Linked DNA regions of Homo sapiens. The protein of the gene in region 7 purifies or fractionates together with the protein of the main gene of each other region. This does not show direct contact. Each region holds a gene or a part of one and is shown on either strand. Other genes may lie near its edges.

Region 1 (4,057 bases), on a different chromosome or scaffold from region 7:
CTGCCTCCGATGTTCAAACGATTCTCCTGTCTCAGCCTCCCAAATAGCTGGGATTACAGGAGCCCGCCACCACACCCAGCTATTCTTTGTATTTTCAGTAGAGATGGGGTTTCACCATGTTGGCCAGGCTGGTCTCGAACTCCGGAACTTGTGATCCACCCGCCTCAGCCTCCCAAAGTGCTGGGATTACAGGTGTGAACCACAGTGCTCAGTCTTTTTTTTTTTTTTTTTTTTTTGACAGGGAGTCTTGCTCTGTTGCCCAGGCTAAAGTGCAGAGGTGCGATCTCAGCTCACTGCAACTTCCGTCTCCCGGGTTCAAGTGATTCTCCTGCCTCAGCCTCCCAAGTAGCTGGGATTACAGGCGCCTGCCATCACGCCTGGCTAGTTTTTGTATTTTTAGTAGAGACGGGGTTTCACCATGTTGGCCACGCTAGTCTCCAACTGCTGACCCCAACTGATCCACCTACCTCAGCCTCCCAAAGTGCTGGGATTGCAGGTGTGAGCTGCTGTGCCTGCCAAGCCTGATTTTAATTTTAGCCTTTTTGGTAGGCTGTGGATTGGTATCTCAGTGTGGTTTTATTTTGTATTTCTCTATGATGAGTAATGTTAAACATGGTTATTGGACATATGGATATCCTCGTTTACTAAGTTAAAGTTAACCTTTAACTACTTTCCATGTCAATATATCCAAGAAGGCCGGGCGCTGTGGCTCACACATGTAATCCCAGCACTTTGGGAGGCTGAAGTGGGTGGATCACTTAAGGTTAAGAGTTCGAGAGCAGTCTGGCCAACATGGCGAAACCCCATCTCTACTAAAAATAACAAAAATTAGCCAGGTGTGGTAGCAGGTGCCTGCAATCCCAGCTACTCAGGAGGCTGAGGCACAAGAATTGCTTGAACTTGGGAGGTGGAGGTTGCAGTGAGCTGACATCGCACCACTGCACTCCAGCCTGGGTGATAGAGTGAGACTCCATCTCAAAAAAAAAAAAGTATATATATGAATATCATTTTAAATATTCAGCTATATGGTTGTAATAATTTACAGTCCACTAGATATATAAGTTGTTCATAATTTCTCACTATTATAAACTATACTCTGATGCAATGTCCTTGTAGTTAAAAGTTGAAACAGAGTCTCAAACTCCACAAAAGTTGATCATTTTTGAAATGTAATTACCATTATCACCACCACCACCACTACCCAGAATTAGTCACCAACAGTAAATCCAACAGATTCTCACCTTCAGAAATGCTGGAGTCATGGAACATGGTTTCAAAAGCTTGGTGTGTTTCAGCAAAAGAGGGCCTATCGGCAGGGCTCCACTTCCAGCCTATGTAACAGAAGAAAAAATATTAAAAACTCCTTGCAGAAATTCAATATCCAGTGGTGTATCTAATAATGAGTTCTATGCATCATGATGCACACTTATTAAAGTACAGTTACAGCATGTTCACAATGATAGCAACATAGCCACTTCTCAGCTCTAGACTCAGAGGTATAATGAACCCACTTTCTAAATTCCTTTTTTCTTTTTCTTTGAGACAGGGTCTTGCTTTGTCACCCAGGCTGGAGTGCAGCTGGCATGATCTCAACTCACTGCAGCCTTGACCTCCTGGGTTCAAACAATCCTCCTGCCTCAGCTCCCCAAGTAGCTGGGACTATGGGTGTGCAACACCACGCCCAGCTAATTTTTTTTTTTTTTTTGAGACGGAATCTAACTCTGTCACCCAGGCTGGAGTGCAGTGGCGCGATCTCGGTTCACTGCAACCTCTGCCTCCTGGGTTCAAGTGATTCTCCAGCCTCAGCCTCACGATTTGCTGGGGCTACAGGCGCACGCCACCACGTCCGGCTAATTTTTGTATTTTTAGTAGACAGGGGTTTCGCCATGTTGGCCATGCTGGTCTCGAACCCCTGACCTCAGGTGATCCACCCGCCTCAGCCTCCCAAAGCGCTGGGATTACAGGCTTGAGCCACTGCACCCAGCCAAAGTGAGCACACACAGCGATCTCAAGCTACTGTATTTTTTATGTAGATGGGATTTTGCCACATTGCTCAGGTTGCTTTTGAACTCCTGAGCTCAAGCAATCTGCTCACTTCGGCCTCCCAAACTGCTAGAATTACAGGTGTGAGCCACTGCACCTGGCCATTAACCCACTTTCTAAGGCTGGTGCTTCGATTTAGCCTCAGCTCCTATTCCCTCTAATAAAAGGATGAGGAGAAACAAGGAGATGTTTTAGAAAATGGCAAGTTTTCTTCCACTTGAAAATAAAAGAAGTAAAACCTGTCTTCAAACTCAGCCTAACCATATAATCAACTGTATACATTCAGAAATATAAAAGGATATCAAAAAGGAGGATCTCAGAGTTCATTTTTGACAAAGTGCAACAGAGAACGTCAATGTTCAATGAGGAAACAACACAGACTTATGTTCAAACACAACTGCAATTAGGACCAGGCCTGGTGGCCCACATCTGTAATCCCAGCATTTTGGGAGACTGAGTCGGGCAGATCACTTGAGACCAGGAGTTCGAGACCAGCCTGGCCAACATGGTGAAACCTTGTCTCTACTAAAAGTACAGGCCGGGTGCTGTGGCTCAAGCCTGTAATCCCAGCACTTTGGGAGGCCGAGGCAGGCGGATCACGAGGTCAGGAGATGGAGACCATCCTGGCTAACACGGTGAAACCCCGTCTCTACTAAAAAATGCAAAAAAAATTAGCCGGGCGTGGTGGCGGCCGGCGCCTATAGTCCCAGCTACTCAGGAGGCTGAGGCAGGAGAATGGCATCAACCCGAGAGGTGGAGCTTGCAGTGAGCCGAGATCGCGCCACTGCACTCCAGCCTGGGCGACAGAGCGAGACTCCGTCTCAAAAAATAAATAAATAAATAAATAAAAATACAAAAATTAGGCCGGGCGTGGTGGCTCATGCCTGTAATCCCAGCACTTTGGGAGGCTAAGGCGGGCGCATCACTTGAGGTTAGGAGTTCAAGACCAGCCTGGCCAACATGCCAAAACCCCATCTCTACCAAAAATACAAAAATTAGCCAGGCGTGGTGGCAGGTGCCTGTAATCCCAGCAACTTGGGAGGCTGAGGCAGGAGAATCGCTTGAACCTGGGGGACGGAGGTTGCAAAGATTGTGCCACTGCACTCCAGCATGGGCAACATAGTGAGAGTCCGTCTCAAAAAAAAAAAAATTAGCTGGGCATGGTGTGCGTGCCTGTGGTTCCAGCTACTGAGGGGCTGAGGCATGAGAATCACTTGAACCCATGAGGTAGAGGTTTCAGTGAGCCGAAATCACGTCACTGAGCCGAAATCACGTCACTGCACTCCAGCCTGGGCAACAAAGCAAGAGTGTTTGAAAAACAACAACACAAATAAACAAACAAACAAAACCCTGCAATTTAATCCACTATTCACTTTCCTACTTTTTCATCTGCAAGCAATCGGATGCTTCTGTTTATCTACACAGAGGTTATTTTTATGCATTCTTCATAGTCTTTAGCAATCATTTTTATCTAGTTGAAAACGGCCCTCCCCACCTTAATCTCTAAACTCAATTTCTTATCTTATTAAATATGCAAATGTCTCTGAGAAACTGGGTCAATATTTGGGCCATAACAACTATGCTTAGGATTCCAATAAGATTCAATGGTATATGATATGACAACTGGCTGATCAATGATAAACTCTTTAAATGTCATGAGGCTGGATTCAATCTAACAACACTGAGAGGAGAAATGTTTCTAATTTTGTTAACTATTCTGAACTGCTAGCTTATGCCTTCAAAATTAAAACATGCAAAAATACTCACATGCTCTCATAAGTTCATAAACCTTAGGGGGGCATCCCTCAGGCTGTTCCATTCGATATCCTTTTTCTAGTAGGTCATAGACCTGAGACAGGTCAATACCTGGATATGGTGACATTCCATAGGTAGCAATTTCCCACAACAATACCCCAAAAGCTGCATAAGGAATTAAAAAAAGCACTTAGTGTTTCTTCTCCGATTATTTATTTTACATAATTAGGTGATTCTCTTTCATATTTTAGGTAACATT
Region 2 (4,843 bases), on a different chromosome or scaffold from region 7:
GCCCACTGCTGCATCTAAAGAGAGAAAGAAGTGGGCACATTCTGCTCTGGCAGTGAGTTTCATTCGCGTGAAATCTAACTTAAGGAGAGGTGTGTCTCACACACACACACACACACACACACACGGGAAATGTATGCACCACTCAACAGTCTGCAAAACTTCCCTCCAGTTCTTTTGAAGTGAAATCACCACTCCCACAACCGCACTCCCCAGATACCTGCGCTGTTGAAAGTGAAGGGCCTGTCCCTGCTGTGTGGTTTGGGGTAAAAAGGAGGCAGGATTAAAGCGCTCATTTCAAGTCCCAAAAGTAAAATACGACTTGGCCTACGGCAGTCCTAATTCTTTCCAGAACTCATCCCCGGAATTGCCCTTTTAAACAACCAGTCATTAACCCAACTCCGGGTCTTTTATAGCTGCGAAAACCGATCGAGCACATCATTTATTCATTACGCTTATTACTATTGTTATTGCAGAAAAGCAGTGAATTCCCGGGACGGGGTTCAAAGGGTTTTTCGGAGGAGGAGGGGAAGAGGGAGAGAACACGCGGGCGGGCAGGGACCGCTGGGAGGCTGAGCTGGGCTGTGGGGCAGAGGTGCCCGGAAATCCCCAGGGAAGGATGCCTCCAAAGCGCCTCCGCCCCGCGCGCTCCTAGGCCACTGCGCACCGGCGCAGCTGCGGCAGCAACCTAGGAAGCTTCTTACGTAAGTCAGAGCCGCTGACATCACCTTCGCCGCGAGCGTCGCAGCCTGACTAGGCGCCAAAGGACCGTCGCGCCAACCCAGCGCCCCTGTCTACCTCCTGGGTCGTTCCTAAATGATTCTGCCGTCGCCAGATTTGGACGATCCGGAGCCAAGGGGACCGCCCTTGGAAGGGAGATGACATAGAATGACTATTTATTGGGAGCCCTTGGGTGTCGTAAAAGCGAAGTCAACGGACAGCAAAGACGCCCAGGGGTCTCCCAGACTTCCTTCCTCGTCGTTTCCCTGCAGCCCGCCTAGCAGACTAGTTCATACCTAAGTCCACGTGCCAGTAAATTTGGGCGACAGTGCACCGGGGAGGAGGAAGATAGTCTGTGGGATCCTCTGCGGGCAGATGGCACAGAGCCATTTAGTAGGAACCCTGGGCTGTTCAGAGCAGAAAAGATGCCCAGGGGTCTCCTCCATCTCCCCGGGGCCCCTGACACTCCCACCCTCATCTCTCCCTGACCCTCCCCGCGGCCCCTCCGGGCCACAAGGGTTTTCGGCAGAAGCACTACGAAGTTCAGTCTAGGAGGCGAGCAGCGCCACGCTACGTCGCACACGAGGGCAAGGCACAAGTTCGGAGCTCGGGGCAGCACCTGAGGTCACAGCGAGTGACGAAACAGCCGCGGTGCTGCAGCAGTCTCAAAAGAACACTCACTACTCCTGGAACCCCCAACCCTGAACATGCATGGTGTGGGCTACAGGGCTCAGGGCTGGGCTTCTGGAAACCACAGGAGTTGCAACCCTCCTCCCTACGCCCCGTGAAGGACGTGAAAGGCGAGCCCCGGTGGTGAAGGACAGACCCTCTCTGCCTCCTGTGCTCCCCATAAACGCTCCCTTTCTGCTCCTTCTCAGCCCACGCTGCCTGCGACTTCAGAGGTCGCCCTTTTAACTTTCCACCGTCCACGTCTGCATCACTGAATCGGGGTCCAGCCCAGCCACTCAGCCCCAGGAGGATTGGGGTGGGTCCCAGGGGATGGGAAGGGTGGGAAGGCGAGAGTAGTAAGGTGCAAGCTGCAACCGGAGCGGCGCCGCGGGGCTGGGATTGCCGCTGCTGGGGAGGGCGCGAGGGTGCGGCGCAGAAACCCATAGCCTGGCGGGCGGACGGCGCGGGTACTCACGCACTGCCTCCTGCTTAGGGTCAAGCGTGCTGAGGACGCGCTGCACGCCGCCGAGCTTGCCCTGCAGCGCCCAGACGCGGCGGTGGGTGAGCTGGATGTCGCTCTCGAGCTCCTGGAAGAGGCTGCAAGCGTGCCGGGCCACGTCCGAGAGCTGCCGGAGGACACGGGCCAGAGCGGCGTTGCTGACCGCGCATAGGTCCAGCATGAGCAGCACGGCCGCCGCCGCCGCCGCCGAGGACGCCTCGCCGGCTGCGGGCGCCGCCTCCGGGATCCCCGCCGTGCTCTCCTCGCCAGCCACGGACGCCTCTCCGTGCGGCGGCTGAGTCTGGTCGGCCGGCGCGGGCAGTGGCGGCGGCGGCGGTGGCAGCCCTGAAGGTGCAGGGACGGCGCGGGCTGGCTCCTCTGGCCCTGGCGCCTCGACCTCGTCCAGGTCCCTCCGGCCCGGCGGCTGCAAGGGCGGCGGCGGCTCAGCGCTGCCTCCGCTCGCGTCCACTGCTGGGCCGGGCGCAGGGCGCCGCTGCCTGCACAGCCATTGCGGCTCCACGATCCGCTTGGCGAAAGGCATCCCGCGCAGCCAGGCGGCGACTTTCTGGTCTCCTCCAAGCGCCCCTGTGAGCTGGAGACCGGGCGCGCCCACCTGAGCAGGGAGGGGGCAGGAGTCCGGCAAAAGCGCGATCTGGCAGTCCGGATACGCAGGGGGCTTCTCTGCTCACCTTGCCTCCTCTTCCCCGCCCTCTCCCTAGCAAATCAGTCCAGCCAGTCCTCCTTTGGGTGCACCGTTCCCTGGGGAGGATGACAAGCGCTCCGCACAGAAATTTAGGGGTGCGCCTGGTCTCTTCTCACTTGCTTCCAACCAGGGTCGACTGGCTCAACTCCATCGTTTCTGTGCTCGCCGTCGCCACCCCGGCCACTGCCGTCGCCGCCGCCTATATAAATGGGCGTGCGTGTGTCTGTGTGTGTGTGGGTGAGTGGGTGGGTGGGTGTGAGTGTGTGCGCGCGCCTCAGTTTGAAAGTACCCCGGCGCAGGCCTCTCCCCGCGCGCCCCTCGGCCGCTCCGGGGAGCGATTGCGCCCGGGATCTCTCTCCCTGGCTGGGCGGGGAGGAGGTTTCGGAAAGGCGCTCTGAAAACCCGGAGAGAGGAATCTGCCTCCAGCCCGGGCGCAGGAGGCCGCGCGGGGGTGACGGGGCGGACGCAGGGCGGGGGAGGCCGGGGCGAGGGGGGCGCAGCGCCCTGTGCGGCCGCTGGGAGTCACTGGTGGCCTCGCCGTGCTGGGCGCGTTCAGGCGCAAAGACACTTCCTCACATCCAAGGGGTTGGAATTGAGACTGTCAGCGTGGTGGGGGCGGGGAGTCCTCAAGTTGGGAGTAGGGGTGTGGGCAGTAAGCGCAGAGGGAAGAGGGTGGGGTATTGAGGATGCGGCAGATTTGGCGTGTTGGAGCAAGTTTTTCGCCGAATTCCAGCTCTGTACAAGACCTTTGGGTTCTTACAGGGAAAACTGGGCTGCTCCTTGGAGATCCCCGGGCTCTATGAACGCAAGGAGACAACTGGGGAGGGCAAAGGGCGTAGGCGCATCTCCATGTGGCCAGAGCAGCCAGAGTGCTGTTTATACCCCTTCCCAGGCATCACGTGGCCCCCTGTTTTGGGCACGGGCTCTATAGAATATCGTGAATGAGACCCAAACCACCAATGAGCAAAATCCCCAGAAAACTGCTTACGAAACTCATTGCACGTTGGGTGAGATAAACGGCATTACCTCCTCGTCACCCTACTGTGCTGATCATACACAGGATTTTTAAAGTTCTCCATCAGAGAGATGATGATTTACAGAAGAAGGGAAAGTTTTCCCCTTCAGTTAACTGAAAGGTATAATTTCTAAAAAGGCATGCATTTTCGATTGCAGCAGGCTGCAGGCTGTATGCCGTCAGTAAAAAGAGTTTGGGAAATGTTAATAAAACACGTGCTTTCATGCCTCCAAAAAGTATACTGTAAAAATATTTTTTATTTTAAAGCCACAAGCCAGATCTTGGGAATGCAGCCTCTTTTCGTGTTTCTAAAGAGAACATGGAAAAAATATGTTTTATGGCAACAATAAAGTCCTCCAGACCTGCGGTGGTGTCTCCTCTCCTCCCTCTAAAGGCGGGAGAGGGAGGAGGCTCCAACAGTCAGCACTTTGGACTGGCCCACGCTTTGGTTTTAAAGGCTTCAACAGACCCTTGTCTTATTCTACAAAACAAAAAAAAAAAAACAAAAAAAAACCAAAATTTTCGGCAAGGACATATCCTTGTTCATAAAAGATCCAGGCTGAGGCTTTGGGGGTAAAGGGCCATGATGTCTGCAAAGTACACATAAATGTTTCAGTAACAACAAGAAGAAGAATGATGATAATAAAGATGTGTATGTATGAAGGGAGAAAAAAACAAAATATGGCAAAATGTTCAAAATAGTCTAGGTTAAGGGCATATCAGGGTTCATTGTACATTTCTTGCAACTTTAAATTTGGTTTTGTTTCCAAATAAAAAATGAAAGAAAAGAATATTTTGGAACAAGGTCTTTTAAGGTTTGTTTTTTATCTCACAAATCTGAAAAGCGTTGAGCTAGCTGTTTTTAAATTGAGCTTGACTTTTTAATACGTTCAAAATTCTGAACATGAGTTCTGCTGGGTAGGCAAGCCAGACACTTCTCCCTAAACACATGGAAGCATGGAGAACAATGAGGGATATTAAAGGCATCTGGTTAGCAAGCCTTGTGGCAACAGGCTGCCCTGCCTCTCACTCTCCCTTACCTAGCACTGTCCTATTAATAGCAAGGGTGCCAGTGGAGCGGGCCCATCTGAGCATTGACAGGGGCAATGAATAAGTGGTGTGGGACTCTCACTCCTAAAGGGAGTTTCAGATTATTGGCAAGTTCCTTCCAGGGCTCCCAAAATAAGTGATCAGAAAGGAAGGGCAAAGGCCCAGGAGAGAAAGGGTTCAAGGGGGTAAT
Region 3 (4,057 bases), on a different chromosome or scaffold from region 7:
CTCTTTCTGCTTTATCTCCAGCATCAGGCACTGGCCAAGATGATGCTGATGGCCACTCAGTGTACACCCCTGATCACTACTCTACACTAGGAAGGTTCAATAGCTGTCGGTCTGCTGGGCAGCGCTCAGAAACCAGGGACTCCAGCTGTCAGACGGAGGATGTGAAGGTCGTACCACCTTCCATGAGGAGAATCAGGGCACAGAAGGGGCAAGGCATTGCTGCCCAGATGGGCCACTTCTCAGGTTCCTCTGGCAACATGTCTGTGCTGAGCGATTCTGCAGGGATCGTATTCCCTTCCCGCCTTGACAGTGATGCTGGCTTCCATAGTCTTCCGCGTTCTGGAGCAAGGGCAAACATTCAGTCCCTTGAGCCGAGGCTGGGTGCCCTCGGCCCTGCAGGAGACATGAATGGCACTTTCCTCTACCAGAGAGGTCACCCACAAGCAGATGAAAACTTAGGCCATTTAGGAGGTGCCTCAGGGACTGGAACACTTTTGAGACCCAAATCCCAGGAGTTGAGACACTTCGAGAGTGAAAATATAATGAGCCCAGCGTGTGTGGTTTCTCCTCATGCAACCTACTCCACCAGCATCATCCCAAATGCCACACTGTCTTCCTCTTCCGAGGTCATCGCTATTCCCACTGCTCAGAGTGCGGGACAGCGGGAAAGTAAAAGTTCTGGCTCATCACATGCAAGGATAAAATCCAGAGACCACCTCATCTCCAGGCATGCTGTGAAAGGTGATCCTCAGTCTCCCGGTCGCCACTGGAATGAGGGCCATGCCACCATTCTTTCACAGGACTTAGACCCTCATTCCCCTGGTGAACCCGCACTGTTGTCCCTCTGTGACTCAGCCGTCCCTCTAAATGCTCCAGCAAATAGGGAGAATGGGTCCCAAGCTATGCCGTATAATTGTAGAAACAACCTGGCCTTCCCAGCCCACCCCCAAGATGTGGATGGCAAGAGTGAATCTAGTTATTCAGGGGGCGGAGGGCACAGCAGCTCGGAGCCCTGGGAATACAAATCCTCAGGTAATGGAAGGGCATCCCCCCTGAAGCCGCATTTAGCAACTCCTGGCTATTCCACTCCCACAAGTAACATGAGCAGCTGCAGTTTGGACCAAACGTCCAACAAAGAGGATGCTGGGTCGCTGTATTCTGAGGACCACGATGGCTACTGTGCATCTGTGCACACTGACTCTGGACATGGATCTGGGAATCTGTGCAATAGCAGTGATGGCTTTGGGAACCCCAGGCACAGCGTGATCAATGTTTTTGTTGGAAGAGCTCAGAAAAACCAAGGGGACCGGTCCAATTACCAGGATAAATCCCTATCAAGAAACATCTCTTTGAAGAAAGCAAAGAAGCCTCCCCTGCCACCCTCCCGGACAGACTCCCTCCGCAGGATTCCCAAGAAGAGCAGCCAGTGCAACGGGCAGGTGCTCAACGAGAGCCTGATCGCCACACTCCAGCACTCGCTGCAGCTGAGCCTCCCAGGCAAGAGTGGCAGCTCGCCCTCCCAGAGCCCCTGCAGTGACTTGGAAGAGCCCTGGCTGCCCCGCTCCCGGAGCCAGAGCACAGTTAGTGCTGGCAGCAGCATGACTTCCGCCACCACCCCCAATGTCTACTCCCTGTGCGGGGCCACGCCATCGCAGAGTGACACAAGCAGCGTCAAGTCAGAGTACACGGACCCCTGGGGTTATTACATTGACTACACGGGCATGCAGGAAGATCCGGGGAACCCGGCAGGGGGCTGTTCAACCAGCAGTGGGGTGCCCACTGGGAACGGGCCAGTCCGCCATGTCCAAGAAGGGTCCAGAGCCACAATGCCCCAAGTGCCCGGTGGTTCAGTCAAACCAAAGATCATGTCACCAGAGAAGTCACACAGAGTCATTTCTCCATCCAGTGGGTATTCCAGCCAGTCGAATACACCCACAGCACTCACCCCTGTGCCTGTGTTTTTAAAATCAGTGTCACCAGCAAACGGGAAGGGGAAGCCCAAGCCCAAGGTACCAGAAAGGAAGTCCTCTCTGATATCTTCAGTATCCATTTCCTCATCGTCCACTTCTCTTTCTTCTAGTACTTCTACTGAAGGAAGTGGCACTATGAAGAAGCTGGATCCAGCCGTGGGCTCTCCCCCGGCTCCTCCTCCTCCTCCTGTTCCCTCTCCTCCATTCCCTTGTCCTGCAGACAGGTCTCCTTTCCTTCCTCCCCCACCTCCTGTCACAGATTGCTCCCAGGGCTCTCCTCTGCCTCACTCTCCTGTGTTCCCCCCTCCGCCGCCAGAAGCTCTCATTCCTTTCTGCTCCCCACCTGATTGGTGCCTTTCTCCTCCCCGCCCTGCACTGAGCCCCATTCTTCCAGATTCACCTGTGTCCTTGCCATTGCCCCCACCTCTCTTACCTTCCTCGGAACCCCCACCTGCCCCACCTCTTGACCCCAAATTCATGAAAGACACCAGGCCGCCTTTCACAAATTCTGGCCAGCCAGAATCCTCCCGGGGATCCTTGAGGCCGCCTTCTACCAAGGAGGAGACCAGCAGGCCCCCCATGCCCCTGATAACCACGGAAGCATTGCAGATGGTGCAGTTGAGGCCCGTGAGAAAGAACTCAGGCGCTGAGGCGGCACAGTTGTCTGAACGAACAGCTCAGGAACAACGAACTCCAGTTGCTCCACAGTACCACTTAAAGCCATCTGCTTTCCTGAAATCCCGAAATAGCACAAATGAAATGGAGAGTGAAAGCCAGCCTGCCTCTGTGACAAGCTCGCTTCCGACGCCTGCCAAGAGCTCGAGTCAGGGTGACCATGGCAGTGCGGCTGAGCGTGGTGGCCCTGTGAGCCGCAGCCCTGGAGCTCCAAGCGCTGGGGAGGCAGAGGCTCGGCCCAGCCCCAGCACCACCCCACTCCCAGACTCTTCACCCAGCAGGAAGCCACCCCCCATTTCCAAGAAGCCCAAACTGTTCCTGGTGGTACCACCTCCGCAGAAAGATTTTGCAGTGGAGCCCGCAGAGAACGTGAGCGAAGCCCTCCGAGCTGTGCCCAGCCCCACGACGGGAGAGGAGGGCTCTGTGCACAGCAGGGAGGCAAAAGAGAGTTCTGCAGCCCAAGCTGGCTCTCATGCCACGCACCCTGGCACCTCGGTTCTTGAGGGAGGAGCTGCAGGATCCATGTCTCCCAGCAGAGTGGAAGCCAATGTCCCCATGGTTCAGCCTGATGTCTCACCAGCCCCCAAGCAGGAGGAGCCAGCCGAGAACAGTGCGGATACTGGGGGCGATGGGGAGAGCTGCCTATCTCAACAGGACGGAGCAGGTGAGTCTGGCTTCCTGGCTTCTCTCTCCTGTGCCCTCTGCCCATATGCAGCTGAACCAGATAGGGTTGTTGAATGCTCACACGTGGAAAGAACCCAGGTAGATCAGATTCCTGTTAAAGCTAGCAGTATGTAGGCTTCCTGTGTTAAAACACAGATTAAGTTACCAACTTTGCATTTTGTTATTATTTTTAAAATCTAGACCTAAAGGCATGGCAGAAAATAGGGGGATGGAGATGATCTGCAGCAGGCTGGGTATTAAATAGCAATGGGTAACACCTCCCTTCCGAAGAGCCGCGCAAAGAAACGTTGCAACAAAATTTAAGAGAGATGCCATGGGCGTTCCATACTTTAACAAAGAATGAGCTCTGGCTCTCAGGCTAGTGTCATTTCCTCCCTTCTTTGTAAACTATCAAACTACAGACCCACGGCATCTCCCTGTGGTTCTCACATTGTCGGGAATGGCAGGGAAGCAGCATATTTAGAAGCTTGGCTGAGGACTGAAATTCCAGTCACTTGTGCGTCTTGTATGCCTGCCTGCTCTTCTGTAGCTGGGGTGCCGGAGACCAACGCAGCCGGTTCATCCTCAGAGGCCTGTGACTTCCTCAAGGAAGACGGGAATGATGAGGTAATGACCCCCAGTCGACCCAGGACCACAGAAGACCTTTTTGCAGCTATTCACAGGTATTTCAAACTCCTTCCTCTGACTTTAATCTACTGTGTAATTCCTTCTTTCCAAGCAGCACCTCA
Region 4 (4,057 bases), on a different chromosome or scaffold from region 7:
TGGCTAAATTTTTCTATTTTTGGAAGAGACAGGGTCTTGCTATGTTGGCTAGGCTAATCTTGAACTCCTGGGCTCAAGTGATCCTCCTACATCAGCCTCCCAAAGTGCTGGGATTATAGGTGTGAGCCACCATGCCCAGCCATCATTATTTTGCAACCCCAGTAAAATTATGTAGGCAGTAATCATAAAAGGCTGCTAGTGTCATGAGAGATACCCAACATTTGGAGGTCACATCATCACCCCTCAAGTGGTCTCGCAAAAAAAAGACTTCTTCATTGACTTTTAATGATTTTAGTACTTTAGGTATATGGGCAAAGAAAAAGAGCTAGTGATTTTTTCCTTTCTTTTTTCTCTGACATAGAAAAAAGGTAAAATTTAGGTTTATTAAAAAGATAAATTGGGCTTACTCATGAGGCAAGAACTCAATTAGAACAACAAACACTTTTATTTTATTTTATTTTATTTTTATTTTTGAGGCAGAGTCACAAGACTCTGTCACCTAGGCTGGTAGAATTCAGTGGCACGACCTTGGCTCACTGCAACCTCCACCTCCTGAGTTGAAGCGATTCTCCTGCCTCAGCCTCCCGAGTAGCTGAGACTAAAGGCATGTGCCACCATGCCCGGTTAATTTTTTTGTATTTTTAGTAGAGACAGGGTTTCACCATGTTGGCCAGGCTGGTCGTGATCACCTGACCTCAGGTGATTTGCCCGTTTTGGCCTCCCAAAGTGCTTGGATTACAGGTGTGAGCCACCACGCCCGGCCTAGAACAACAAACACTTTTAAAATAAGCATTTGTTTAGAGGACCTAGCTAAAGGAAAAAGTAGCTGCAAGGAACATTTAAGATAGGACCAAATGGACATCTTTGCTAGTATGTCAAGGTCTCTCAGTTAGACAACACAAAGTTTTAAATTTTATATTATCATTCCTACTAAAGTTCATAGATAAAGAAAAAGTGGCTGCAGGGAATGTTTAGAGCATCATTATGTCTGTCCTGCTTGTGGTTGAAACAGTTACTTAATCTCTCAGCCTGTTTCTTCATCTATAATATAATGCAGATAATAACAATATCTACCTCATAGCATTATACAAGGATTAAATGAGATAATGCATTAAAGCACACATAACTCTGAATAAATGTTATCTACAATAAAATTTATTAGTATTACATTATCCTTATGCCATGAGTCTCATACTTGTTCTATACATTCAGAAAATAGAACTACAAAATAGCATAACTCAGAAAGGTTTTAGATGCTTGTTTAATAATCAAGTTGAAGTAAACTTACAAAACGGTGTTTATTTAAATAGGCACTGACAATTTCACATCAGGCTAGTCAATAGCACCTATAATATGTTTTTTTTTTAAGTCTTTGGGCCTAAAAGTGTTTTTTTTAATCTTCACATTTATGCTATTATTTTATTTAAAGTACATGTTTTTGTAAACACTCCTCCATCAAACAGCTAAATTGTGGGCATCTATTACATATTGCCTGCTTTTCTCATGGAATGAGCCCTCTGTGAGCTTCCTCTTCCCAGAGAAGCACCACATCAACTGTCAACTGCAGACATAATTCATAAGGACAAACAGCCTATGTTGAGAATGCTAAATGTCTCAGTTGAGCCACTATTTCATAATTCTATAACAGCCTAATTCCAGATGTGTATTAGGAAAATGTTCATATTCAATGGAAACTATCACTATTACAAAGCAAATTTTCTTCTTAACCTCCTGGAACCTTATATAGCTGAGGGCTAAAACTACTCAGGTACAGCTTTTTTTCTACTTGCCTCCTGAGAACACAAAGAGAAACACTCATCATCATCATTACTATCATCATTTTCATTAGATGTATGGAAAAATTATTTTTATGTCATGAAGGTGAGGTACCAATATACTGTGGTTTTCTTCATGGTCTTTTTTTTTTCCTTAAGAATGTTGTTTAAAATTTTTTATCCTTGTATTGATTCACATGACTTAAAAAATCTGCTTATGAACTGTATCTTCCTGAAGCAGGCTATAAAATTCTAAGATGATTAAACCATTGCTTAAAAACCATTTCAGCTGCTACAGTGTCTATTGTATAAAGATGTCCAGACTGCTGGACAGGAGCAGGGATAGATCTCCTAGGTACAGAGACCAAGAGACCACCTTGGATAAGGGAAAAAATAAGTCTCAGGGTACACCTGGCAAAGTGTCACCTGTCTTACTCTTCTTCTCAGGTTTCCTAGGCTTAAGGAAACATAGCAAGAAAAAAGCAAACAGGAGAGGTCAGAGGAATGACTGCCTTCCTCCAGGATAATGAGCTAGGAAAGAAACCAAAGGCCTTAAGCAAGGCAATAAAATACGTGAAAAGTGGCAGGAGAGATATTTGATGACAGAGAAGACCACTGTATCAAAACAATCTCAGACATTTAGACTGCAGATATGATTTCAGGGAAATTTACAAACTGTGAATACAGAATTTTTTTAATTTTAAAAGTGAAATTAGATTTTGGTTAATTTATAAATAATTATGTTTGTGAAAAATTTTAGCAAATTTTATTACAGCCATGTGTTTATTGTTATTATTACTTTGAATTTTCTGTGGAATTTCTCCCTTCTCTCCCTTTTTCCTCTCCCATAATATATATTCTTCTGTAGTCTTGTTGGTTTAGTTGTTTGACTGAGAAGGCTTGAAGTATTTGAAGACTAAGATTACTGAAAAGAAAAGGGTTTTGTCTCTATGGGGTACCCACATTTGCAGGGACTATGGTTATTTAGAACGTGGATTTATAACCAGGACACCATCACTCAACAAAATGTCCCAATGACCATCAAAACAAGTATGAGGAAATAAAAAACATGCTTAGTTTTTAAACTTCAACCTCACAGTGACTAAAATCATAGTCTCTATATAGATAAGAATGCAGTAAGACCCTCTATAGACAAGAGTTCAGGGGGGCCAAAGAATGTTGCCCTAAATGAATGTTGCCCTGCCATGCCTCTTTAGAATTCTTTGATGCATGCATTGACTGACACATTGTCAGAGTTCTGGAGCATAGGAGGAGAAGCATTCACCCTCCAGAGACTGCTCTAGACTAGATCATAACACATCTTTCTGAAGTTTTCCTACAATCCAGTTTTCTCTGTTTTAACAACTACGGCTTAATATCATTGTGGATCAGCCACATTTAATTTACTGTTGTCTATATGACTTAAATTGTGTTAACATTATATTCTCCTCCAGGTGTCATTCTCTATATTCTACTTGTGGGGTATCCACCCTTCTGGGATGAAGACCAACACAGACTCTATCAGCAGATCAAGGCTGGAGCTTATGATGTATGTAATAACTATTTATATCACTTTAGATGAAGGTTTGTCTTTTGCCTGTTGACCAAGAGCCAGATCTTTTCATTTTTCTTTTAACCATAATTTTTACCACTTTCTCATATTATTTCCCTCTCTCTTAAGGAAAGGGAGAAAGAAATGCAGCATTTGTATCCAGTTTACGTTTCCTTTTAACTCACTGTCTCCTAAGATTGAAAGAAAAGCCATGTGAAGTCTCTGAGGAAGAACTTTGTCAAAATATTTGGACCTTAGTGCATTTTAAAAACATAAAAATTAAAATATTTCTGCTATAGAAATGATTATTGCCTGTTTAGTTGAATTATATTCTCAAATATCTATCACATAATTTTATATTATATACCAACAATATTTTGCTGTGATCACATATCAAATAGAACATTATCCCACTATACCAGTTTCTGGGTTTTGTTTTTTGTTTTTGTACTGTTTGGGATACTATGCAAGCTTTCATTTGAAGAATGAGTTTCACAATTGAAAAATTTGAAAATCATAATTCTAATAATATATTTAATTTATAATTAGAATATTTGAAAGTAGATATATATATATACATTCATAAATTAAGTTCAGAATCTGAAGAGGAAGGCTTTATCTACTTTCTCTTTATGGCTTAACTTTGTGTTTATGATATAATTTGCTCTCCTTTGATACATATTCTTGTAAATATGATTTACCACTTTCTCAGGTTTCCCCTCATACAGCC
Region 5 (4,057 bases), on a different chromosome or scaffold from region 7:
GCTTTACTGAACAAAAGTATAATGCCCATTTCACATTGCTCATTACTCATGCAAATTTCTTCTTGCTAACCTTATTAAAAATGCCCCAAATGTGTGTCTATAACTATTTACTATGTATTCCTCTATAAATCTGTTTCAAAGTATTCTAAAATTTGCTTATTTCATATTATGTTTATATCATTATACTTTTTGCTGCCTTTTGACAAAGGCACTTCCTTATACATCTTTCCCACTCTCTTATCCTTTTAAATCCCTAATATCCTTGTCACTTGTAGCTGAAATACATGCAAAGCCTTTGAAAGGATTGGGGGCTGTGGTATAGATATAGTCTCATTTTCACACCAAGCTGGACTGATAGCCCATAACAGAGATGAAGCAGGGAAAGCAGAAGCTTGTAAAGGTAAGCTTATTGGAGGTAAAGTTGTACCTCCAATAAGTTTAATAATCACCACCAATACTGGACGACTGACATTGATTGGACATGGATTGGACAGTTTCACCTTTCACAAACAGGACATATTTTCACAGACTCTTCAATTCCTTGTGTTCTTTACTCAAATGGTAAGTAGTATTAATTCCATTTATGTAAAAATGTCAATGTACAATATGAATGATCTAGGCCTTCTCAGTGGCTTTTAGTAGCCATTTCTGAGAGTCCCTTGGTAGTAACCATATTGAATAGCATTGGATATCAGGACAATTTAATTGACCATCAGCTAGTAACTCAAATGATTCCAGGCGATTAAGATATTTTCTATATTCTGGAGTTAGGCGTCAGGGAATTTGGCCTTTCCATGGTGAAAAATACACTTCTACAACTAGTTGATGCCTAACATTCTGCAAGTAGAACTTCATTCCATTGGCTTAAGGCTTTTCCCTTGTTAAAATGCAACTGACCCTCAAAAGAGGTAGCATTAAGCCTTATAATCTCAAAGTAAATGAATTTATCCCTTTCCTGAGAGCAGGTTTTTCTTAGGAGGAGAAGGAAGTAGGAGGCACTGAAGAGAGTTGGTGCTGGGAAGCAAGGTTTAGGAGAATGGAGCAGAAAGAGGAGAGGGAGGATCCTGGTGACAGACCGTCAACTCAGTCACTCTTTTGTTGAAGGGCTGGCCTTGGGAGCATCCCTGCTGAAATGGGTGTTAACTTGCCACCTGGAGCATATTACTTAGAAATCAACTATGTTTTCCGATATTAACACTATTAAAGATTCTTTAATGTATAGGCACACAAAGACTTATAGCAATGGAAAAATAGGTAGCAATAAAATATTTGGTGCAACAAGAGATAGGGAGTTAACCCCCGACCCCAAATCAGAAGGACTATACTTGTTCATAGGAAGAAGATAAACTGATATTACTTTAAAGAGTGCAAATCACAGGGCTGGGACGAGGGTAAGGCACTTGCATGGCCCTGAGAGCGGGCACCTCTTTGAATTTTACGCCCTAGGTGCCTCGCTCACCTCACCCTAGTCCTGGCCCTAGCAAATCATATTAAAGCGAAAGCTCACCATTGTGTCACAGACTTGATAATGGAAGGTGGAACGAGTGAGGAACAGAGCACTGAGCATGAACTCATCTTTTTCCCAACTTGTTCATTGATGAGGAAGAGGGCAGGTGCGTGGACAGATCTGCTCAGACTGACAGGTACAGAGAGACTGCAATCGGGTCTGTGTTGTCCAGATAGTTACACTGGATGTCAGGTGCAGTGCTTGTTAGGAGAGCCTGGTAGGATCTCCTCTGTCTTTGCACGTTCAAGGTAATTTATCCAGATCAACTGGTCAGTTTGTGGTCATTAAGCTAACATTAATTATTTTGCTTCCTGTTGTCTCACTTCCTTTATGGGTGAGTTGTTGTGCTAGGGATGCAGTTCATGGGATTTGGGGCTGAGGGATAAGTTGGGGCTGAGGAATAAGTTGGGGCTGGTGGGGGAGGCCCAGTCAGGAGCTGAGGCAGGCCAAGTAGTACAGGATAAGGAGAGGAGACACCAGCAAAGCTTGCTATTGTACCAAGAATAACTACCCTCAAAAACATGTACTGACTACCCACCAAATGCAAAGCATCCTTGGTTAACAATTAACCTCCGCTCCTGGGGATGGTGACTAGATCAAAGTCAGGCTAGCAGAGCCATCTGTTGCTACTAACTGGAATGGGGAGGAAAAAAGAGGATAGGGACGACTTGAAATGGAAGCTGAGCTCCTAGGGCCAACTTCATTTCACTCAAATCTCTTCTCTATTCCACCTTCAAAAATTATTATCATTATTATTTATACTAGTAATTGTAGTAGTGGTGGGTTCTCTGCAAGCCTTTCTGAGAGGGGCTTTCAGCCTCTCTTCTCCAGTCTCAGCAGCGTAGGTGCAGAAGGCAGCAAACATTGTGGTAAGTGCCTGGGTGGGAGAGAGAGTGGAGTTATGATAATCAAAGGTAGGAGAGAGGTTGAGTGTTAGGAGTGGGGAAGATGCTTTGTGTTCTGTTAATTAGTGATTAGTAGAAATTTTACAGTTTGGTTGTTTATTTGGGACGTCTACCTGTTGCAAAATATTAAATGAGGCCAGGTGCAGTGGCTTACTCCTTTAATCCCAGCACTTTGGGAGGCCAAGGCGAGAGGATCGCTTGAGCTCAGGAGTTCAAGACCAGCGTGGGCAACATAGCAAAACCCCCATCTTTACAAAAAATTAATTTAAAAAATTAAATGAATACTTCCGGTCTTAAATGTTCTCTCTGACCATATGATTTCTGCCCCAAATCCTCTTGTGCTAATGGGAACACCACTGCGTGGGCCACAGTGATGATGTAGAAGATATTCTAAAAATTCCAGGCATATAGAGTATTGTAGAGGAAAACAAGACTAAAGGTAACTGACAAACATCAAGGTGTCTGAGAATTCAGGTTCAGAATCTTTTGGGAAAACCTCCAGAGGTAGCAAGGTGAGGGGAGAGGCAAAACCCATTAGAAGTAGTAAACAAGAAACTTCCAGAAAAGTCCACAGAAGTAACAAGGCCTATACTATGTGAGTCCCATACTCAGCTTTAACGTTCAACCAGTCATAATGGTTCCCAAGGAGACCCTGGTGTCCTTTCATTTTTGCTAAGCAAAAGCACAAACGCTCCTTCATTTACTACAGAGGAAAATGTCTGTTTTTTGGAATTCTAAGTCTGGAGCAGACAAATGTGGCATTCATATATAAACTGAGGCCAGGGATGAATTGATTTTATTTTGGGCAAAATCCCTGGAATTTGGAATTTGGTTAAGAACTTCACACCAAGTAGTTCTAGTACTTTCAAAAGCAACTGAGCCTAGCTGTTTTATTATTTTAAGTGTCGAAGTGCTGGTTGCAAGGGAGTTGGTGGGCCTGGCCTGTTTCCAGAAGTCTCAGATTCAGAACTATAACAACAAAGGGCCTAGGCCTAGGGCTTCTCTTGTGAGAGGCCCAAGTTTTCTCAGTACTTAGTGTGGTTTTTCAGCTGCTCTGTCCAGCTGGAGTGTGGGCAGTTGAGCTAAAAGGTGGCTTCTCATTGGGCAATACGACCTATCAAAGTTGAGATCTGCTTGTCTCTGGAACCTTACTGCATCCTCCAGGAGGTTGACCATTGAATCTATTGGGTGAGGGGTGAAGTAGGAAGGGGCTGGGGAACTCTCTTTGTGAAGCAGGCTACAATTTCATTCAACTGTTCTTTTTGCCTCTTGAAGACAGTAGACAATTAACTTTCCATCATTGGTCAGCAGGTTTTCTTTGCTCAGTGCTTTGTCTTCCTCCCCAACCTCCCAGAAATCAGGCATACAAAAATCAAATGAATCACTGCTCTTGCTCTGCTTAGAAAATTGAGCTGACAAGAATAGTTAGTGCCTATAAGCTTCGTGGGGGGTGGGGGCAGGGAGGGGTCGCAATGATTATTCTGAAGCTCTTTCAGTATGCCATTTACCCAGGTTCTTATGCTCTCCCCCAGCAAGGTTAATTGAAAGCTGGTCAAACACAGAACCTAAATGGCAAAAAGTAGCCCTTTTGTGTGTGTGTGTGTGTGTGTGTGTGTGTGTGTGTGTGTGTGCATTATGGGCCATA
Region 6 (4,057 bases), on a different chromosome or scaffold from region 7:
ATGGTTTTACACATAACTTACTGTGCCATTTGAAAGACTGAATCATTTAAAATAAGATGTCTGATTCTAAACAAATCCTTAAAATGTTCATGATAAAAATGCAATGTTATTTTAAAACTCCAGAAAATATTTTCTTTCATTTTAACATGATTATTTAAAGTGCTGTAGGCAATTATTAATTTTAATTAAAAATGAAATGGTATTTTTGTGTTTTTAATTATGCTAATGAAAATTAAAGGTAAAGTAAAACTGAAATTCATTAACATTTAAGGTAAATCTAAATACGGCATTTCTGAATATATGGCCATGTTCTACCTGTTTAAATTTATTTACTCAATCTTTGAGTGTATCCCTTTGCTCCATATCAACTTAGCAAACTACAACATTATAGGAAAAATAAGAGAAAGCAAGCTCAGAAAGTGCTCATGAATAACTCAGCAAGTATTGAATGATGTGTTCAAAATTATTCCTGATTTTTAAAAAGTCTCCTTTTATTAAATACATCATGTATACTCTTCATGGGTCTTTTGTTAATACATTAAAATAAAAAGAAATGTAAGTGTAAGCATATTTTTAAGAACATGAAGTACATTATTTAATGTTTGCATCCATCTATTTTTGTGTAAAAGTTGTTTTCTTGCAGTTTTTAGTTTTAACTTTAGCAATCGGAGGTATAGAAATCAAAAGTTATTTGTACTGACATTGATCTCTTTTGTATTTTTAAGCATATCGTCATTTCCTTGTCATTATTGTATAAATGACAGTGACAGTCTCATTAGGCTTTTTAGAGCTTTACAAAAACATAACTAAATATACTGCTATTTTTCCTAACATCAAAATGTACATTATATTCATTATGAAACTGCATATTTAGCAAAAAAACTCTACAACTTTAATAATTATTCAAACATTCTGATTAAAAGCAAGTAGTGTCAATTTTTAGCTTTTTTAATTATGCAAGGGACTTACTTTAGACTTAGAAGATGACACTATTTCTATTCTGAATGAAAAAGGACACAAGTATCAAAAACTATCACCATATGAATTTGAGGGGCAAAATGGTCAGGAATAGTTTTGTTTTAGAGTTTGTATTATCAGACTAACTATAAATTTTTTATGATTATTAAGTCAGAGTCATGGTGTAATTTTAAATATAATTGGATGACTCTAAGATGACATTAAATACTAAAAGTTAAATTAAAAAAAAAAACCAGTCTAGACATGATTAAAGTCGTATGAAGAACTAAGAAGAGCAGAAGTGAAAACAACAAAATAGCTATTCTTCTGCAAATTTTCCACCACAGGTCACACGTCAACCCAAACCCTAAATTTTGAGCCGTGTGAACTGGCTAAAACAGATTAGGGAAAAAAACTACAATTAAAAACTAACTCATTCCAACATATGTATATTCATATATATATGAATATATGTATGTATATATATATGTGTATATATATGAATATATGTTGGAATGTGTTAGTGCATATATATACACATATATATGAATATATGTGTATATATATGAATATATGTATATAATGAATATATGTGTATATATATGAATATATATATAAAATGAGCAAATAATTAAAATTTTCCTGGTGAAATAATAGATGCATTCTTTTGATTTTTAGCAACACACATAACTGTTAATAAATTTCATAATCCCTGAATCAGATTTCTAAATGAAAGACCAGATTCTTAAGAAATAGAAAAATTTGCATTAAAATATATGCAGCATTAATATTTTAATAATAAAAATTGTTTCCATTAGTCTTATTAATAAAAAAATCCAGTCAGTAAAGAAAAGACATCTGTAAATGTTAAAAATTCCAGGTCTATGTGTAAGTGTAATTTCACCAAGATTAGTACTCACTAAGAGCAAAAGAGGGCAAGTTGATTTTCCCACTATATTTGAAGTAGATTTACCTGTTATTATATGGTAAAAGCAAATATTTGTATTTATTTAGAAATGCAAATTTTTATTAATCTGAATCATATACCCTTCACTTTTTGCCTTGAAATGATTAATAATGTATTTCTATAATGTACATTCTTAGTTTAAGTGAAACAGTAGTTAAATATGCTGTTTAAAATTTGGAAAAGTTTTACTTTTAATAATAAATAAAATTTTGAATCCAGAATTCAATTTCAGAGGCAAAGATCGCATCATGTTCCTCACTTATTAAAGTTTGATTTTAGGCTATTTTAATTCACTAGCATGTGTGGATTTGTGAGTTAAACTTAAGACATTAGCATCCAAATTGCATTTTAGACATCTCAATATTTCCTGTCTTTAAGTATTTGTTCTCTCTTTGTATAACTTTAAAAAAATAAAGCAAAACAAATGATTTTTTGGTTCTGAAGTGCTAAAGTGGTACATCATGCTGGGGTATTTGTGGTTCTGAGTAATTTGAAAAGCTGAAAACAATCCTTCATAAAACACCACCTATTGTTGTCACTACAATGTATGCATCTAATAAAAGACCATTCCTTTAAGCATATAACACTTGTCTATTTGCTTTATCTATGTCCAGGTTAATAGCCACAACCTCAATGCATTCAATCTTTGCTTTTCACGTTATACTTCATAAAGGCTAAAATAAATATTCCTCTGTTTTTTTCCTTTAAGTTTTTAAAAACTCTTTTACTTTTCAATTTCATCAGTCATAAAAGAAATGACATATCTACAATCTGTCTCATCTTTCGTTCTAGCTTATAAGTTCCACAGTTATTTTTGTAGTAGATGAAATAAAACATTACGTAGGATGGATCTGCTATGTAAGTCATCTTTTGATTGAGTTGTTATGAGTTTTATCTTTATCAAACATTATTTATGTAGTTTGACCAAGATATTGAATTGCCAGTAATATTTATCCATTAACTAAAAGAAAAATATTTCTATTTCTCATTACCAAGATCCTCAAAGGAAATATATTATGGAATCTCAAAGCATTTTTATTGTTTGCAATGATTATATAAAATAATCAATTTGGAGAATATAGTCCTATATTTTGAAAGAGCTCAGTGCAATTATTAATGTCTCAATGTTAGAGGAATCTATTATTTTAAATAAAGAATATTGCCCTAAAGTGCTGCCAGCATCCAGTCACTTTTATCTTTATTTCTTAAAAAAACCTGAACTCCATTTTTACCAAAAAGAGTGGAATGTTGAACTTTATCTCCTCAAAGGGAACACTTTAACAGAGCCCTTTGTGTAATACTTACTCAAATATGGTGGTTTGTAAGGCGCTCGCGTATTAGTCAGCAGTCCATCCAGCTCCTTCCTCTCCAGAGTGCTGTGAAGGGCCTTCTCTTTGCCAAAGGTGGAAAAGGACCGCTCTGCCCCAGGCTGGGCTTCTGGAGTTTCAAACACCTCAGTGTCTGGAACAGAGTCCATGCCAGGAACATGCAGATTGCTGCGATAATCAGCAGCCTGGCGTCCATCAGAAGGGACAAAAGAAGGCATCCAGCACCGATCTGAGTGGCCCAGAGCTTTACATTCCTCAGTGCAATTGGAGAAGAGATCCATACCTGTAAGCAGAAAACAGAAACTACGGATGTAGTCTTCACCAACATGACCAGTTACTTAGCAGTGTAAGATTACAGGTAGCATAAAGGGTGACAAGTGAAGTTGTCTTAACAAATTTTTCCTGGCTTATCCTGACAGGAACCAAATATTATTTTGTCTCATTTTTGTTCATCACTTTAAAAAGGGAAAATGATCTGCAAATGTAAAAGATAAGACTCTTCTGGCAAAGAGGCCTCTGAGATAAATGTTTCTAAACTACTTAGGGTATTGGGCAAAATATTGGCTCTAAACAATTTAAATAACTGGGAAATGGTGAATAAAAATGGTAGACATCTTTTAAAAAATCTCTTGTGAAGTTCATAACAGATAAAACAACAAGGTGTAAAAGCTTTAAAATCCATGATCCCTAACAATGATAAATATTTGACTTTTTTCCTTAAAAACAAATAACATAAGAAATATGCCAAGCACCAAAAATGATATTTAGATTATGAAATTTGAATATGAAGCAGAAAGTGAAATTC
Region 7 (4,057 bases):
TGTCAGGGTTTTGCCATGTTGGCCAGGCTGGTGTTGAACTCCTGACCTCAAGTGATCCATCCGCCTTGGCCTCCCAAAGTGCTGAAATAGGCGTGTGCCACTACGCCTGGCCATGAAATTGTTAAATTAGTTATGGTATCTATAAAGGTATTAAAAAGAATATTAAAGACATTTTTTCTACTACTGAGTGAAATAAGCAGATTACAGGCCAGTATGTATGGTATGATCACATTAATGTAGAGAAAACAACAAAAATAGTATGTTGTTGTGTAAGTTTAGAAGAAAATAAAACAAACAAGATATTAAAAATAGTAGTTGTCAATTTACTTTTAACTTTTTCCTCCAAGTTACCTTTGCCACGCCTCCTCCCCCGCCTTTGCTGTATGAGAAAAAATTTGGACAAAAACTTCAGGTGACTATGAGGAGCGATTTTTTTCTCAGCCTAGCAGTGGTAGAGAATGCCTTATTTTCATCCTTATGCCCTTTCACATATGATTCCAAAGTGTACATATCCAAATTCCTACTTTACCTCTCCAGAGATCACTGCCAACAAAGTTATTACCTCTCTAAGATCCTAATATTTCAAAACAAACGGCATTAAATCTTAGTTTTGACTGCTCACTGTGTAAATCAGACTATTTCAGGTCTGAACTATGCCATTTTAAAATTTCCCTTTTTAAAAAATCTTTATGGAACAAGTACAATTTTTCGACAGATAGTGACAACTACTCCCTACTTTAAATATAGGCTGGACAAATCATACACAAAATAATAGCATAATCTCATAGTACTTCAATTTCATTCTACTCTCTATGTTTGAAGAAAGAAAAACATTATAACTGAGTTCACAGCAGCCTTCTTTTATCTTAACACAAGTTACCAGTGTATACATAAGAAGCTGTGAACAGAAGCTCTTTATGATATTCATATACAAAGCTGCTGAGAAACAGCCTCAACAATGCCAATCAAAGAGCAAAACATTGGGTTAGTTTTCAAACTAAATGAGCTGCTTTGCCCTCCATGCCAACTATTAAGCAATAGGCCCTTTTATGTCTTTCCCATTCATTACTGACTAATGCAGCAGTTCTCAACATTCTCACTAGTCCCATGATCACTCAATTTTTTTTCCCTATTCTTTTAAATAACTCTATTTGGTTACAGATAAAATGAGCAAGTTGACAGCATACAAGTTTTCTTTAAGTTCTTAATTTTTAAGAAGTATTGTGTAATTTTATTTTCTAATTTTGGTATTTTTTTCAATAAAATGTTTTTTAAAACATTTAAACAAATCATATAATAGCTGACCTGGTATCGAATGCTGTACTTAGACATTCCTAAACCATTATTTTTTATATTTCAAACTAAGTTTAAACAAAAACTTTATTATTATTGAACGAATATCCAAGGATCTTAAAGAAATCAATCGAAGTGTGATACAGTCTAGTGTTTATTTTATGTTATGGCAGGTACACTTGAATTTCAAAAATTTAAAACATATATAAAAAGTGGTTAGGGACTAACATTTGTATCAACAGTTGATAAATGTCTAAGATTGTTTATTATACAGCAGGGTACAATGGTAGTGCTAATGCCAACAGGGCACCATGGAAGTTAGTCTAAAAATTATCGCTAGGCTTTATACAAGCAACAACATATGCTGCTGCTCTTAGAATTTTGGGAAATGATCTGCTTCTAATACTAAGCAGTTCTTTAACATTTTTAAATGTTATACAGTGTTACAGTATTTAGTTTGGCAAATGTTTCAAAATAAAGTAGAAATGTATTCATAACATCACAGAAATGCACATCCAATGTTGTTTTCAATAAGAACCATAGGTACAGATCAGAACTCTTCCCTATATGAAATAATTTACACACAGATGAATACTATAATATCACTATCTAAAATAATCACTAAATACAGTTCTTTTTCAGAAATAAACAAGCAAAGATTTTTTTCATTATCAAATATCAAAAACATGTTGATAATGTATGTTTTTCAAATAAATGATACTTTAAAATTATAGGAATAATCTCAGTGAATTCAGTGAATGTGCAACCTAAATCAACCAAGTATACTGTAGTACAACCATATTAAGAAACCAATGATCAGAAAATACAACCGTATGAAAGAAATTTATAATCCACAAAACTTTTTCAGGTCTTAAGGTAAAATAGTTCCACAGTCTACAGGTAAAACCAAGGCAACAAAAATGCGTGCTTATCTTGATTAAGTAGGTAATTTTATGCAGAAGATGTAACACTTTGTTTGTAGACAGCATGGTATGCATTTCTCAGCAAGACATAAGGAAAACAAGATTCCAAAAGATCCATTGTAAGGAATGGAGATTCTTGTACAATCTGTAAAATTCAAAAAATCCATCAAAACAAGTTATTTATAACTTGTTTATAAACAAAAATCATAAGTTATTTATAATGGGAACATTTATTGACAACCAGTAAGGCATAACTTCTATATTGTTCTTATTAGCAATAGACACATATTATTTTCCTTTTACTTAATCTAAAATGTAAATGTGCCACAGTGAATGTATATCAAACTGTTTAAAAAGAGCTACTTTTCAATTAAATTTATTTAATCAACAGGAATATATTGAGCACTTTCATTTTCCTCACTGATATACTAGAAATAAAAGACAATACAAAAATATTTTTTTTTTGTACTATCAACTCTACCTGGCAATCAAAGACTAAGCTAGGAAGCAAAACCAAACATAAGACCGACTATAATGAAATGGAAAGCTGTAAATTCTGTAAGAATTCAAAACAGAAGAAAGATTAATGTAGGCCAAAGTAATCAAGAAAGACTATCTGGAAAAAGATTTGAGCTGTGGGATGTGCTAAGTCATTAGGATAAATCCAATTTCTGCAGGTAAGGAAAATAACTCTAAGTGGGGAAAGAGCCACGTGGTAGAAACAAGCAAGAGCTGGTTCACAGATACTGCAGAGAGGGAAGTGACTAGGCACAGAGAATTACAGAAAATTACGAGAAATGGGCAGAATAGAGTTAGAATGTAGAAAACTCAGAAAACTGGAAGAGAGGTGACACCAATACACTAGAAAAATACAAGGCCTGAGTGTTTTCCAACAGGTTGAAAAACTGTTCATAAAAGAATACCCACAGTTAATGCTAACCTTTGATTGTTATCTTCTGATATTACCGAAATGATAAAATATGAGTGATGTCAGTCTTCTCTGCAAATTTTAGAAAGGTGTGGCTTACGTGAAGTGAACAAAAGGGATCAAAAAAAGTATTCAATGACTAAGATGCCAAGAAAAGATTCTCAGGAACGACTGGAACTTTTTTATTGTTAGTAAAAATTAAAATGAGACTTACCATATCTAGCAGTAAATAAACAGATTCTCTATTTCTTGTTGTAGTTTTATCTGTCTCCTGGCCAATTTTCAGTAGACTGGAGGATGCAAGCTTAAAAGTATACATACACATAAAGTGAGTTTGTTAATAAAAGGTTCATCGGTTACTTATTTTAGGTATGTTTCAACTTCCAACACATTTCAATCATTCAGTGCTAAATATAAAATAATGAGCAATTAAATAAGATGAGCTTAGATAGCCTACATTCAAGCAGTAATTTAGAGAGTAATTAAGGCACAAAGAGACACTAACATAATAAATGTAATCAAATATTCTTATTGGTCTTTAAAACTGATTTTTTCAGAACAAGTCTGCTTTTTAAAATGATTCAAATTATTTTCTCTTATCCCATCCCATTATCTATACTGACTATATTTCTTAGTTCCCAAGGAAGAAGACAGTTTCACACTGGATTTGACTTCACAGAAACACTGTAAGATTAAGACATTAAACCCTGAGTGAAGGAATTATTTGCAAATGGAAAGAAACACTTAAAATTTTTAATAGTGTTTTCCTTGAAATAGAAGTTATTTTCTCCTCAAGTTAGTACTATATTTGCATTTGTAATTTAAAAATTATTTTTTAAAAAAGCTGACAGGATTTATAACTGAAAAAGAAGTAAATGTTCTAGAGTTCAGTATGCCATGGTATATCTTTCGT

Evidence for each region.
Region 1: the proteins of NCKAP1 (region 7) and ABL2 purify together in Homo sapiens (affinity purification with mass spectrometry; 2 studies listed by BioGRID and IntAct, with this or other methods). This does not show direct contact.
Region 2: the proteins of NCKAP1 (region 7) and NHS purify together in Homo sapiens (affinity purification with mass spectrometry; 2 studies listed by BioGRID and IntAct, with this or other methods). This does not show direct contact.
Region 3: the proteins of NCKAP1 (region 7) and NHSL1 purify together in Homo sapiens (affinity purification with mass spectrometry; 2 studies listed by BioGRID and IntAct, with this or other methods). This does not show direct contact.
Region 4: the proteins of NCKAP1 (region 7) and CAMK2D purify together in Homo sapiens (co-immunoprecipitation; one large-scale study listed by IntAct). This does not show direct contact.
Region 5: the proteins of NCKAP1 (region 7) and NHSL2 purify together in Homo sapiens (affinity purification with mass spectrometry; 3 studies listed by BioGRID and IntAct, with this or other methods). This does not show direct contact.
Region 6: the proteins of NCKAP1 (region 7) and PCDH10 purify together in Homo sapiens (pull-down; one large-scale study listed by IntAct). This does not show direct contact.

What each region holds. Positions count from the first base shown.
Region 1 is NC_000001.11:179,111,068-179,115,124, forward strand, and holds part of ABL2 (tyrosine-protein kinase ABL2), read right to left. Parts: intron 3,964-4,057; coding exon 3,811-3,963; intron 1,332-3,810; coding exon 1,242-1,331; intron 1-1,241. UniProt on the Homo sapiens protein: Non-receptor tyrosine-protein kinase that plays an ABL1-overlapping role in key processes linked to cell growth and survival such as cytoskeleton remodeling in response to extracellular stimuli, cell motility and adhesion and receptor endocytosis.
Region 2 is NC_000023.11:17,373,341-17,378,183, reverse strand, and holds the start of NHS (actin remodeling regulator NHS), read right to left. Parts: upstream 2,985-4,843; 5' UTR 2,427-2,984; coding exon 1,862-2,426; intron 1-1,861. UniProt on the Homo sapiens protein: May function in cell morphology by maintaining the integrity of the circumferential actin ring and controlling lamellipod formation. Involved in the regulation eye, tooth, brain and craniofacial development.
Region 3 is NC_000006.12:138,429,645-138,433,701, reverse strand, and holds part of NHSL1 (NHS-like protein 1), read left to right. Parts: intron 1-21; coding exon 22-3,309; intron 3,310-3,858; coding exon 3,859-3,991; intron 3,992-4,057.
Region 4 is NC_000004.12:113,516,830-113,520,886, reverse strand, and holds part of CAMK2D (calcium/calmodulin-dependent protein kinase type II subunit delta), read left to right. Parts: intron 1-3,229; coding exon 3,230-3,324; intron 3,325-4,057. UniProt on the Homo sapiens protein: Calcium/calmodulin-dependent protein kinase involved in the regulation of Ca(2+) homeostatis and excitation-contraction coupling (ECC) in heart by targeting ion channels, transporters and accessory proteins involved in Ca(2+) influx into the myocyte, Ca(2+) release from the sarcoplasmic reticulum (SR), SR Ca(2+) uptake and Na(+) and K(+) channel transport.
Region 5 is NC_000023.11:72,144,691-72,148,747, reverse strand, and holds part of NHSL2 (NHS-like protein 2), read right to left. Parts: 3' UTR 1-4,057.
Region 6 is NC_000004.12:133,162,455-133,166,511, reverse strand, and holds part of PCDH10 (protocadherin-10 isoform 1 precursor), read right to left. Parts: intron 3,536-4,057; coding exon 3,230-3,535; intron 1-3,229.
Region 7 is NC_000002.12:182,923,458-182,927,514, forward strand, and holds part of NCKAP1 (nck-associated protein 1), read right to left. Parts: intron 3,449-4,057; coding exon 3,359-3,448; intron 2,362-3,358; coding exon 2,245-2,361; 3' UTR 1-2,244. UniProt on the Homo sapiens protein: Part of the WAVE complex that regulates lamellipodia formation. The WAVE complex regulates actin filament reorganization via its interaction with the Arp2/3 complex. Actin remodeling activity is regulated by RAC1.